Linked DNA regions of Homo sapiens. The protein of the gene in region 4 purifies or fractionates together with the protein of the main gene of each other region. This does not show direct contact. Each region holds a gene or a part of one and is shown on either strand. Other genes may lie near its edges.

The links. Proteins that work in one complex are often made in the same cells at the same time.
Region 1: the proteins of VPS50 (region 4) and BRF1 purify together in Homo sapiens (affinity purification with mass spectrometry; one large-scale study listed by BioGRID and IntAct). This does not show direct contact.
Region 2: the proteins of VPS50 (region 4) and ZNF33A purify together in Homo sapiens (affinity purification with mass spectrometry; one large-scale study listed by BioGRID and IntAct). This does not show direct contact.
Region 3: the proteins of VPS50 (region 4) and RAPGEF2 purify together in Homo sapiens (affinity purification with mass spectrometry; one large-scale study listed by BioGRID and IntAct). This does not show direct contact.

The regions. Positions count from the first base shown.
Region 1 is NC_000014.9:105,208,786-105,211,393, forward strand, and holds the end of BRF1 (transcription factor IIIB 90 kDa subunit), read right to left. Parts: intron 2,509-2,608; coding exon 2,337-2,508; intron 1,804-2,336; coding exon 1,766-1,803; 3' UTR 501-1,765; downstream 1-500.
Region 2 is NC_000010.11:38,058,131-38,060,587, forward strand, and holds the end of ZNF33A (zinc finger protein 33A), read left to right. Parts: 3' UTR 1-1,957; downstream 1,958-2,457. UniProt on the Homo sapiens protein: May be involved in transcriptional regulation.
Region 3 is NC_000004.12:159,106,079-159,109,578, reverse strand, and holds part of RAPGEF2 (rap guanine nucleotide exchange factor 2), read right to left. Parts: intron 1-3,500. UniProt on the Homo sapiens protein: Functions as a guanine nucleotide exchange factor (GEF), which activates Rap and Ras family of small GTPases by exchanging bound GDP for free GTP in a cAMP-dependent manner.
Region 4 is NC_000007.14:93,291,366-93,294,865, reverse strand, and holds part of VPS50 (syndetin), read right to left. Parts: intron 3,164-3,500; coding exon 3,031-3,163; intron 322-3,030; coding exon 230-321; intron 1-229.

The sequences.
Region 1 (2,608 bases), on a different chromosome or scaffold from region 4:
CATCTGCTAGGCCGGGAGCCCCTCCAGCTGGTCCTCAGGGTTCCTCTAAGAGCACCTTCTCCAAGCCCCCCATCCTGCGGTCCCACGGCCCACCTGCACCTCCCTCGGGGCCCCTGGGTGCCAGCTGTGGCCCCCAGGCCCGCCCACCCTGGCCCAGTTGCTGCTTCCTGTTACCCCAGCCTCAGTGAAGCCCCTGTGGGCTGGTCCTGCCGTTTCACTTTCTTCACAGCACTCACCTCCCGGTGCCCACACTGCGCTGGGGGCCCAAGCGGGGACTTGTCCACCCGGTCCCCTGTGGCACACCCATGTCCAGCCCAGGCTGATGCACACCCACTCAACAGCTGCTGCAGTAGTTGGGGGGACCTAAAGACCCCACACCCCTCACTCAGGGCAGCCCCTGGGTCTCAGGGGCTAATATCCACAGCCAGGCCGTGCAGCCAGCAGACCGACATGACGGCTGGCCACAGATCGCAACACAGAATCAGACAAGCCTCAGGCAATTTCTGTTAAGTAACAACAGATCTTCCTGCTTTACTAAATCTATTCTTCCCCCAAGCCCTCGAGAAGCCCTGGCAGGACCCAGGCTGGCTACTGAGCTCTGGGCGGGGGTAGGGGGGTCTGGCCTGCTGCGGGCCAAGTTGGGGCAGGACATACAGCCCATTCCATGGGGAGGATGAGGCCCCTGGGGGTCAGTGAGGCACGGCTCTGCCTCAAGGCCACCCCCTCCTAAGGACACAGGGTGAAGCCCCCTCGGCCACATCCGGGGCAGCCATGCCAGAGCTGAGACCTCCTACGAGTGGTACTGGGGCCTTCCCACGAAGAGGCCTGGGGAGGCTCTCGGGCCTCCGTCTGCCCTCCCTCCTCGATGGGGGGCCTGATCCAGCTCTGACAGGGAGCGCCACTGCCCTCTGGCTCTGTCCACGGGGAACTCCCAGCGCCAGGACACTATGCAGGCTATGCCCGCACTGCCTACAGAGCTATGCTCAGGACGGGTGGGCGCCGGTCTCAGCTGTCGGGCACTCAGTTCACCTGCCGGCAGCCGCAGGGCTCCTGGGCCCACAACTCAAGTGGCCCTGGAGCAGGGGTCTGACCCCCATGCTGCTCCAGGCGGTGCAGGCAGCGGGGAGGGGGGTCTGGAGGAGGCAGGGGTGGGGGTGTCTGCCTCGGACGAGGCAGGTATCTGGATGCAGGGCCACAGCTGGAGGCAGAGGACCTTCAAGGAGCTGCTGCCTCTCAAGTGCCAGATCCTCAGCTCCCACGGCTGCGCCGGACACCTGCAGGGCTCTGGCTTCCACTCTGGCAGAGGCTGCTGGCGCCGAGTGCTGCTCAGGAGGGGACGGTGCGGAGGGTGGGCTGGAGACTCCAGAGCTGGTCCTGAGTCACAGGGCCAGCACACTCAGCCCTCCACACACTTGGACCAGCAGTGGGGCTGCCCCAAGCCTGTTTCCTTAATAGTAGCAACACCACACTGCCAGCCTTGGAGGGTCCTTGGATGAGTCGACGGCAGGCAGCGGGACCCAGCCCTGCACACACCCGGCCCACATCTGATCACACACATGCAGACGCTTGGTCCGGTTTCCCTTGCTGAATAGAAACACAATCCCAATGGTAAGTTCCACATGGGACGAGGGCTGTGGGACAGGTGCCACCTGTCACCAGGAGTCTCGGCGCTGGGGCCTGCCTGCTGCGGTCCTGGAAGCCCGTCTGATGCTGAGGAGACCCGCGAGGCCCCCTGCCAGGACATCACCTGCCTGGAGGCCACACTTCAGTAGCCGTCGTCCTCATCGCCATCACAGCCATAGTCTGCAGAAGAGCACAGTCATGAAGCCCAGGGTCTCTGTGGGACCCAGGAGCCCAGACCCCCCAACCCGCCCTGTTCCTGGTGCCCCCCTAGAAGACTCAGGCTCCAGCCCCAGCCCCAGCCCCCCGCGCCCCGCCAGGAGCCATCTTGGGCTCCTCTCCACCTCCCGGGACTGGCATGCACCCAGAGCAGGGCCTTGCTCCTCGTCGAGGGCACCTGAGAGCAGTGTGGGCTCCCTCAGCCTCCCTCCCTGGGTGTGCAGGTCCGTGGTGGTGTGCAGATCCGGGAACCTCGTGCTGCTGGCTGGGCGGCCCTCGTGGTGGGTACCTCACCGTCCCTAGCCTCTCTGACCCTGGCTGCCTCCAACCTCACAATCGACATGACCAATTTACAAAATGTCTTAGTTCAAATTTCTTTCCAGGGAGAAACAGAAATTTAGTTTGAAGCTAACAGGCCCAAGTTCAGGGATCATGAGGGGCAGTAGCTGATGCCTTTATTTCCCTTGAACCCCTCCCTGTTGTCGGGCCCCACCCACCGTTGCTGCCCATCATCTGCAGGGCACTGACGCAGGGCTCCCCGTCCTCCTCGTCAGGCTCCTCCTCGTCAGCCTCCTCGTCGGCGTGGTATGACACGGGCCCGCTCTCCACCAGCACCGCCTGGGGCCTGGCAGGCTCAGCTCCGAGGGTGGGAGAGCTTGGGAGCAAAGCCTGGAACGAAGTGGGGCTCTGACACACACAGAGCTGGGAGCCCTGTGTATCTCAACAGACCCCTCAGACCCACCAGGGCTGGCCCAGGATGCTCAGCCAC
Region 2 (2,457 bases), on a different chromosome or scaffold from region 4:
TAACCTGAAAAAACATTAGAGTAAAAATCATTGAAATTGAAAAGAGAAAATCGATAAAACCCAAAACTGGTTCCTTGAAAAGGTCAGTAAAATTGATAAACCTCTAGCTAGCTTAAGAACAAACAGAAGACAAATATTGCTAATACCAAAAATGAAAGAGGCCATCACAGCTAATCCTATGGTCACCAAAAGGATTAGAAAGAAACATGGACAACTCTGTCCATAAATTTGATAACTTAGCTAAAATGGACCAATTCCTTGCAAGACGCATTCTCTCAAAGCTCACACAAGATAGACCTCAATAGGCATATGTATCTATTAAATAAACCAAAGCAGTAATTAATAACCTTCCAAGGCCAGGTACAGTGGTTCATGCCTGTAATCCCAGCACTTCACTTTGGGAGGCTGAGGCGGGTGGATCACAAGGTCAGGAGTTCGAGACCAGCCTGGTCAACATGGTGAAACCCCCTATCTACTAAAAATACAAAAAATTAGCTGGGCATGGTGGCATGCGTGTGTAGTCGAAGCTACTCAGGAGGCTGAGGCAGAAGAATCACTTGAACCTGGGAGGTGGATGTTGCAGTGAGCTGAGATTGTGCCACTGTACTGCAGCCTGGGTGACAGAATGAGACTGCATCTCAAAAAATAATAATGAAACTTTCCAAAACAAAGTGCCAGGACCAGCTGGGTTCACTGATGTGTTTTTGAGATACTTAAGGTAGAAATGATACCAAGTCTCTACCATCTCTTTCAGAAAATAAAAGCAGAGATAACACTTCCCAACTCATTTTGTGAGGCCAGTATTACCCTAATAGCAAAACCAGGCAAAGATATTACAAGAAAGGAAAACTACAGATCAATATTTCCATTGAACACAGATGCAGAAATCCTCAAAATATTAGCAAATCAGGAATGCAAGGCTTGTTCAACATTTGATATTCAGTGTAATCCATTGCATGCATTAGCAGCTCAAAGATGAAATACGATCATATCAATAGGTACAGAAAAAGCATTTGACAAAATCCAATATCCATTCATGTTAAAACCTCTCAACACAGAAGGAATACAGGAGAACTTACTCAAGTTGGTAAAGAACATACTACAAAAAACCCTACAGCTAACATTATCCTTGATGTTTCCAACTAGACACTTTCCTACTAAGATCAGGAACATGGCAAGGAACACCACACCACTGCTTTTCAGCATTGTACTGGAAGTGCTATATAATGCAGTGTTAAAAAAAAAAGAAATAAAATGCACATAGATTTGAAAGGATGAAATACAACTTTGTTCACAAGTAACATGATTGTCTTTGTAGAGAATTCTAAATAACAAAAACCCTGCTGACATTAATAAGCAATTACAGCAGGATTGCAGGATACAGTCCTCAGGTAGATGATAAAAAGGAATTGGACATCAAGTCATTAAAAGACACGGAGAAACCCTAAATGCTTATTGTTAAGTGAAAACCAATCTGAAAAGGCTTTCTATTTTGTATGATTGCAATTATATGACATTTTGGGAGAGGCAAAACTATTGAGCCAGTGAAAGGACCAGTGGTTGCTGAGAGTTGAGGGGAAAGGAGGGATGGCAGGTAGAGAGGTGATTTTTAAGGCAGTGAAAGTACTCTCTAGGGTACTGTAATTTGTCAAAACGCAGAGAATGGAAAACAGTGAACGGAAAACACAGAGTAAACCCTAATGTCAACTCTGGACTTCAGTTAATAATAATGTATCACTGTTGGCTCATTAATTGTAACAAATGAACCATAATGATGCAAGATGTTAATGATTGGGGAGCCTGTGGAAGATGGGAGGGGAAAGGGTTATATGAGAATTCTCTATACTTTTTGCTCAACTTTCTGTAACCCTAAAGCTACTCTAAAAAATGAAGTGTATCAAGTAAATAAATAACCAACCAACCAACCCTGAGGAACATCTTGTTTCTGTACTAAGGTGTTCTTTTGTTAGTTGTATGTTTCTGACTGAACATGTAAATCATCATTAGTGAACAATTGAATTGCTTTTGTACATCCTTAATATATTTTAAATTATGGTAACTGTGACCTGAAATTAAGGACTAGTATTTTTGGTTCTCTTGACATCTGAAGCCAATAGGGCCTCAAATGACCTAACCTCATTTCCATCCCCACTCTGCTTCCACAGGTGAGGTAACTTAGCAGACAGTCCTCCTTGTCAGGGGGGCCAGGCACAATTCCTGCTTATTCCTAAGTAGTAAGATTTGCTTCCCTGCCAGCTCTTGGAATTATCACCAAACCCCTCACATCCTCCCACAGCAAACAGTGGTCACTGTACTCTGGATAATACAGCTGCTCGCCACAACCCCTCCTTTTCCACTCTGCTCCCTAGTCGAACCCTGTGTGGCTCTTCCCAGCATGTGGTGTCCTTCTCACCTTTCTGAGAGTTGGTGTGACTGACAAACTCACCTAGATCTTAT
Region 3 (3,500 bases), on a different chromosome or scaffold from region 4:
CTGTTAAATAATAGAAATTGTATAAAATATGCTATAAAGAGGACTAACATTAGGCATTACACTAAATAATGTACTTTCACTTAATCCACAAAACCTCAGACAGCTATTATCCATTTTACCGACGAGGAAATTGTTACCAAAAATGGAGTGAAGAGAAGGAATACCCCATAAAATACGGATTATCAAGGACCAACGATTTTCAGTGGTTTCCATATCTCCTAAGTCTAAATCAAATTTACCTTTCTTTTAAATAGAAACGGGGCCTTGCTATGATGCCCAGGCTGGTCTTGAACACCTGGGCTTCAAGAGATCCTCCCACCTCAGCCTCCCAAAGTGCTGGGATTACAGGTATGTGTCACCACTCCTGGCCAAAGTTACTTCCATATAAAATTTACAAAGAAGGAATACTTTTTTTCTCATTAAGTTTTCATATGAATCAAGCAAAATCAGAGTTTTTATTTCTAGAAGGTTATCATATCATTATTTCGGATAGTCCATTTATATCTGAGGCGCATCCCATTATAATTTTATGCAACTTGAATTTCAAATTATCACCAATGGACCAGGTGCAGTGGTTCACACCTGTAATCCCAGCACTTTGGGAGGCTGAAGCAGGAGGATCACTTCTGCCCAGGACTTCATGACCAGTCTAGGCAACAAAGCGAGACCCTCATCTCTACAAAAAATTTTTTAAATTAGCCAGGCACAGTGACATAAGCCTGTAGACCCAGTTACTCGAGGCTGACGCAGGAGGATCATTTGAGTCTGGGAGATAGAGGCTGCAGTGAGCCCGGGCAACAAAGCAAGACCCTATTCCAAATATATATATCTCGCTCTCTTACCAAACATTGTCTATCGCCATACCATCCTGAAAGCACCCCATCTCATCAAATATCACCAAAGAAAGACCTTATTGTGATTCTTTAAATCATCCAAAATCTACCCAAATAAGTTTTTTTCAGGTCCAAAGTAAAATTTAAATGAAAAAATGCAGTGAATTTTCTTATGACGCAAACAATATTTTCTTTCAAAACTGAGCTTTAGAATAACACTGCATCCTTCCTTTCTTAAAAACAGTGAGATTAAATGATAGTGATAAGAAGTTATAACTAGTTTTGTTTTTATTTTATGTTCCTTCTTGAGAGAAAAACCAAGGTGGTCATCTTCTCCTTAAAAAAAAAAAAAAAAAAAAAAAGAAAGTTCTGTGAAATTCCAGCATTTGGGAATGACTGCGACTGCATTAAACGAGTATCTGCATAAAGCACTGCAGTTGGAGAGATTTTCATTTTGAACCTTAGCCAAGATATGCAAAGCTAATTATGGAACTGTTAATTACTAAATGTTTAAAGGGTTATTTGAAGGCGACTAAGGTTCTATCAATATTGCAAGGAATGTTAATATTTTTATCATAAATTTAATTCCTCATTTGTTCAAAGTCACATACCAATAGAGTTTGAAGCTAATATTTCAGTTATAAATGTATTTCTGTACCAAGAAATTCAAATGTCATTGTTATGAAATCTAACTGCTTGTGGCCAATCATTTCTTTATGAGACATGCTTTTTAAATGGCATACAGATAGTTTAGTTGTATTCTATGAACAAAAACTATTTAAGAAACAAATATTACTAGAGCCCCAAAATGGGCTAAAATATAATGAGAGTATAAGCTGACAAATATGAGTCTGCTTATAAGCAATGGTAAAAAGAAACTCAAATGGAAAATTTAACTATAACAGACACAATTCTTCCATTAGATTTGAAAGTTAAATATTTGTCAGAGATATTCTTTCATGCCGTTTCTCATAATTTACAGTTCTCTGAGCTAAAGTTACTTTTTTCAGCCCTCTCATTATGACTCACGATGAATTCTACCAAGTACTTAGCAATGAATTAAGTCCTGTATTCTTTATAACACATCAATGAGTTAGTACTTATATCAAAAGTTGTAATAGCCCAAAAAAAAGTAAGATTATTAAATAGGAGGAGATGGGGTGGGGGTTATTTTACACATAACATTTTTAACAGTAACTTTTACAACTAGCTAAAAATGCATTACATTAGGTCTTTAAAGAGAAGAAACAGTTTTGCAATAGATGTTTCACCTGAAAAACTGAAAATGGTATGCATTTAGACACTCTACAGAAGCAATTTCAAAGGGCCTGAACTCAACAAGTTAACAAAATGGTTTAGAAAAACCATTTTATTGTATAAGCCTTGGGGGATAAAAGCTGTTTGTAATTTATTTACATCTTTTACTTCACCAAATTGCCTTGGTGACCAAGCTTCTCATTTAAGTGATTAAAGACATAAACCCAAATGGTTAAATAAAGCAATTACTTAAGAGTCCTGTTTTTCAACAGAGGTGCACTGAAAAATATCAGTAGAATGTTTTCAGGGCTCATTATTTTCAAGGAAGTTTGTTATTTAGAATACAATGCCCCATTGACTAGAACTCAGCCAGGTTTCCAGACACACAATATGGGACACACATTGGATTAGAGTTTTCCTCCTCCTCTCACAATATCAGGTGAAATAGTGATAGTCTCTTGAAACTGAGTATGTATAACCTGGCTAAAACTTAGATGATAATTTTTTTGGTATTTCTCCTTACTATTCCCCCTCTCTAAAGATATAACTGAAATGCGTTTCCATTGTGCAGGTGGACATGAAAAGCTCCCAATTTATGAAAGTTCCTGGTACTCTTCCCACCCCTAGATTCTCTTCTAGCCAACTTCTTAGGTTACACCAATGACATCAGGATTACTTCTAGGCAATTGATTGACCTAAATACAAAACTATGTTTTCACGGAGCTTGGGAAATGAATGAGGCCAGCAAGCCTTTAAAAAACAAACAGAAATGAACAGCAGGAAAAAAAATTACATATGTTCCCCAATTCTTTTCCTTTTGCCTATAACGAGAATCATGCAAACTCCTTTATCGAGTCTATCCTCAGAAACAGAAGGAAGCAAAACAGCAAAACTTTCCTAATTCCTGTCCTTCTGTTCATGATATCAAGCTTATTTAACATGGTTGCTTTTCTAATATTATAAAATTCGAACTCACAAACATTTATAAGACAAGGCTGTATGGAAAATCTTCCAGCGTTCCATTAACAAAGCATTCTTAACATAAAAAGTACCTTCTACAAAAACTTTTTTTTTTATAATTTTTGAGTAAATTTCAAATTTTTATAAGATTACTCCTGGCCAGTCAGGTAAAGATGGAAAACGTTCACATTTCGAACAACTTTCTCTTGAAAAGAAATAAACGTGGGGATTTGTAGTAATAACCAAACGAACATCAAAGTTAATAGGGCTGACACTTAGGAATGTTTGAAATGTTTGGTAGGTTTCCTTATGTTTACTTTTTCTATGAAGGTTTGGTAGGGCAAATGGGCTGCCTTCCGACTGTCAATAAAGCTTTCATGTCGTGGGTTAGTAGTAGCTGGCCCAGGCCAAGTTCTGTGTTGGGTCAGTTTTTACTCTATTCTACACAAC
Region 4 (3,500 bases):
AGACATGTATGAATATTTCCAGTGGAGATTTTCAAATTAAAAAACTTTTTTCCTGCCACTTATAGTCCAAATACATTACAGAAATTAAATGATAGCCTAATTCCAAACAGAAACATATGATTAAATCTGCAAAGAATACATATATAGAAAACTTAAAACTGAATTTCTAAAACTATGACATGACATTTCTATTGCTTCTGTGAAAAAAATAATTTTAAAAAAACCAAACCTGCCATATTCGTGTAAGTCCATGTTCTAATTTCTTTTTTATGTAGCCACGATCAAAATTAGTTTCTTCAGTACCTATCATATTACTCCCTTCTGAAAATAAAAGACAATATATATTTTTAGATTTAATCCAATTTGTGTTTGTTTTCCAAATAATTTCTATTTGGCCTCTCACACATTGTAAGTCTATGTAAGATACAGTAAATATGTTTGATATTTATACAATCAAAACAATATCAAACAATAGGTATTAGACTTAAACCCATTTGGTGAGACAAATAAACGTAGACTATGAAATGCTAAATATACCTAAGACCACTGAGATCATATGTGACTGAGTTGGGATTCTACCTGAGTCAGTGTGGTCCCAGAGACCAGGTTCTCAATACTGCCTACTGCAAGACCATGTAAAAGGCTGTGAGAAGGGCATTACAGGACCAATTAACTGAATTATCAATTAATATGCGTGCTAAGAGGATAGTCTACATTAAAACTCAGGCGTGAGGTGATAATGCATATATTTTATATTTTTCATGATAAATAATAGTTTTATCCACTCCAGATAAATAATTTAACAATGTCTAGTTTAATAGATAAGATCAGTGATCTGCCTCCAATCTCCGCCCTAAAGACAACTGAAAAAGACACATACACATTTATATTAAAAAGATGAAACTTTTGTGTGAATATCCTGTGAAGAACAACTAAGTGAGTATGTTATCATCTTGTCTTAGGTTGGGAAGTTATCCACTGATAACCAGTAAAAGGTCCTTGGAAATGCCAGGCCTCAGATACACAGATGCATGACAAGTTTGCCTCTGAGCACTCCTAAAACGTAAGCCTTATTATTACACCCATGGTATGGCTGTTAGGGATCCAGCAGCCTAAGGCAGTGCACCTGAACTATAGCTTTAGAGCTTTACCTTAGAACGTTAAAGTATTAGGTTACCAAACAGTATCAAATATTATCACTAAAGAGATACAGCAGATAAAGTCTAGAGTCCTCTTCAGTTTTATGAAGTTCCATGAAAAGTAATTTTCAATTTACTAATTTCTACAATTTTATTCCTGAATATAAAAGGATTAATTTCAGGTGAACAAGTAACTTTTTATAGTCCTAGATACTATCAGCTGACAGCTTGAGCACTTGAATATCCATAAAATATACAGATTAGGCAAAGAGGGTTGAGTAATAAGGATCAGATAGAGTTTTCACTTTGACTCAGTATTCCAACGAATGTAAACTATTGGCCTAAAGCAAAAAGCAAGCTTTACCATGATGAATATATACATAACTGTCACCTAAATTCTGATATCTAAAATATGTGTTAATTCTATTCCAAACGTTTTCTTTGGTTTCTCCTTAAATAATGTACTAGAAAAGCAAATATGTCTTAACAGTCTCCAGGTATTTCACTATTATTATATTATCTCTTGATCCATTTCATTTCATCATATTAACCACCACCAATATAAGTACCTTACATGCTGTCCAAACTTTACAACAACCCTGCAGGGTAGATGCGTTACTACTCTAAGGGTTTGGTTTGGTTTTGCTTTGCTTTTTAACTGACCAATTTTAGGAGCAAACTGAAGAATGGGAAAAATAAGCAGTGTCTTCAAGTTCTCACCTTTGGTAAATAGAAGTGAAAACTTGAAGCCAGGCCTCTCAGATCGCAGAGCTCATGGTCCCAGGGGTAGTACAGGGTAAAAGTATAAGTTTTGGGTAAAAGTAGTCTGACCTGGAATCCTGGCTGTGTGCCCAACCTTCTCTCTGCCTTTCTCTCCCTTCCTTTACTCTCCCCAACAATATTTCCAAATGGATAAAAATCCATTCATGGAATTTTCCTCTTATTTTGTTTTCTATATTTACAAGCTTCTTGTAAGTCAAGACAAAGATTAAACCTATGCCTTCTAAACTACCAAAACATTTAATCAAACAGTGAGATTTGGGTGTGTTGTCCACTCACCCAACAACAGAAAATAAGCCCCTCAGAAACTGGAAGTTTATTAAAGTAACTTGATTGAATAGCTACAATAAATTGTATATAATACAAAAAAAAAGATGTGCAGTATAATTTATTTTATCCATATTAAACAAAATGCTGATAAAATCATTTACTGTTTTTATAAGTATTCTGAATATTCAATCTCAGCTACTGTTCAAGGATAATCAGTTAAGATATATAATTATACAAATGAAGCAATTTAAATAGAATGATTAATAAATACAATAATTTTTCAAAGACGTATTCTTTATTATTTAGCTGACTGTACCACAGTCATTTAAAGTTATATTTTCCATTCAAAGATGAATATTTTAAAACATCATTTTGAAAATGAAATTCTAGTCTTGCTTCATTTTCAGGAAGGAAAGTATCAATATAATTAATTCTTAGAACCTAGCTTTATTACTGTAACTTGAAAATTGGCTAAATAGATTAATATTGACCATCTAGCATTAATTTCACAGTAAACTTAGACAGACCAATGTCTTATCTAGTTTGCAACTAATAATATTAACAACAACAAAAATTTATAAATTCAGTCCTAAAGCCATCAGCACACACTTCTGGAAACTAGTACTATGTGCCACTTAAAAAGTCCTTTGGCCCAGTTACTCTCTAAAGGTAATAGAACATTTGAAGTAGCTGAATCACTTTCTTTGCTCAATATTTAGCCTATGGTCACTGTAATCTTTGAAATCCCAAAGGCATTCCTGCCCCTTTCCTTTCTTCTTACTCCAGTAATGTGGGATATTTATAGTTCAATTTTTAAAATAAAATAAAAATATTTTCCTACCAGAAGCTGAAGCAGTATCCTCATTGTCATGCTTTTCATGCCATTCCATAGTCCTATAATAGCTGAGCATAACTTCCCATAGTGCTTTGCACAGGTCTGCAAGGCATGGAATATAGCTGTCTGGTGTAACATGCTAAAGAAAATGATAAGAGACAACTTTCAAATTATTATGTTTACTCTAACAGTTATAATAAAATAGGTTATTAATCAAATATATTCAAAAATTAGAAATAACCAAGAAAATTTCTTCAACTGACATATCTAAAGAGAAAATTCAATGGGGAGAAAAAAAATTTTTAAATAATTCCCATCTCAACATGGCTTTTTCGTACACATTAAGAATATCAGCCCATATGCTGTGAATCAATCTGTAGTTACAGAACCATAAAGAAATTACTGAATTAGCAACTGGTCCCATAAATAGCAGTGTAAACATCCCCAAATGCATTTTTTGAAAGACATGATCCTAA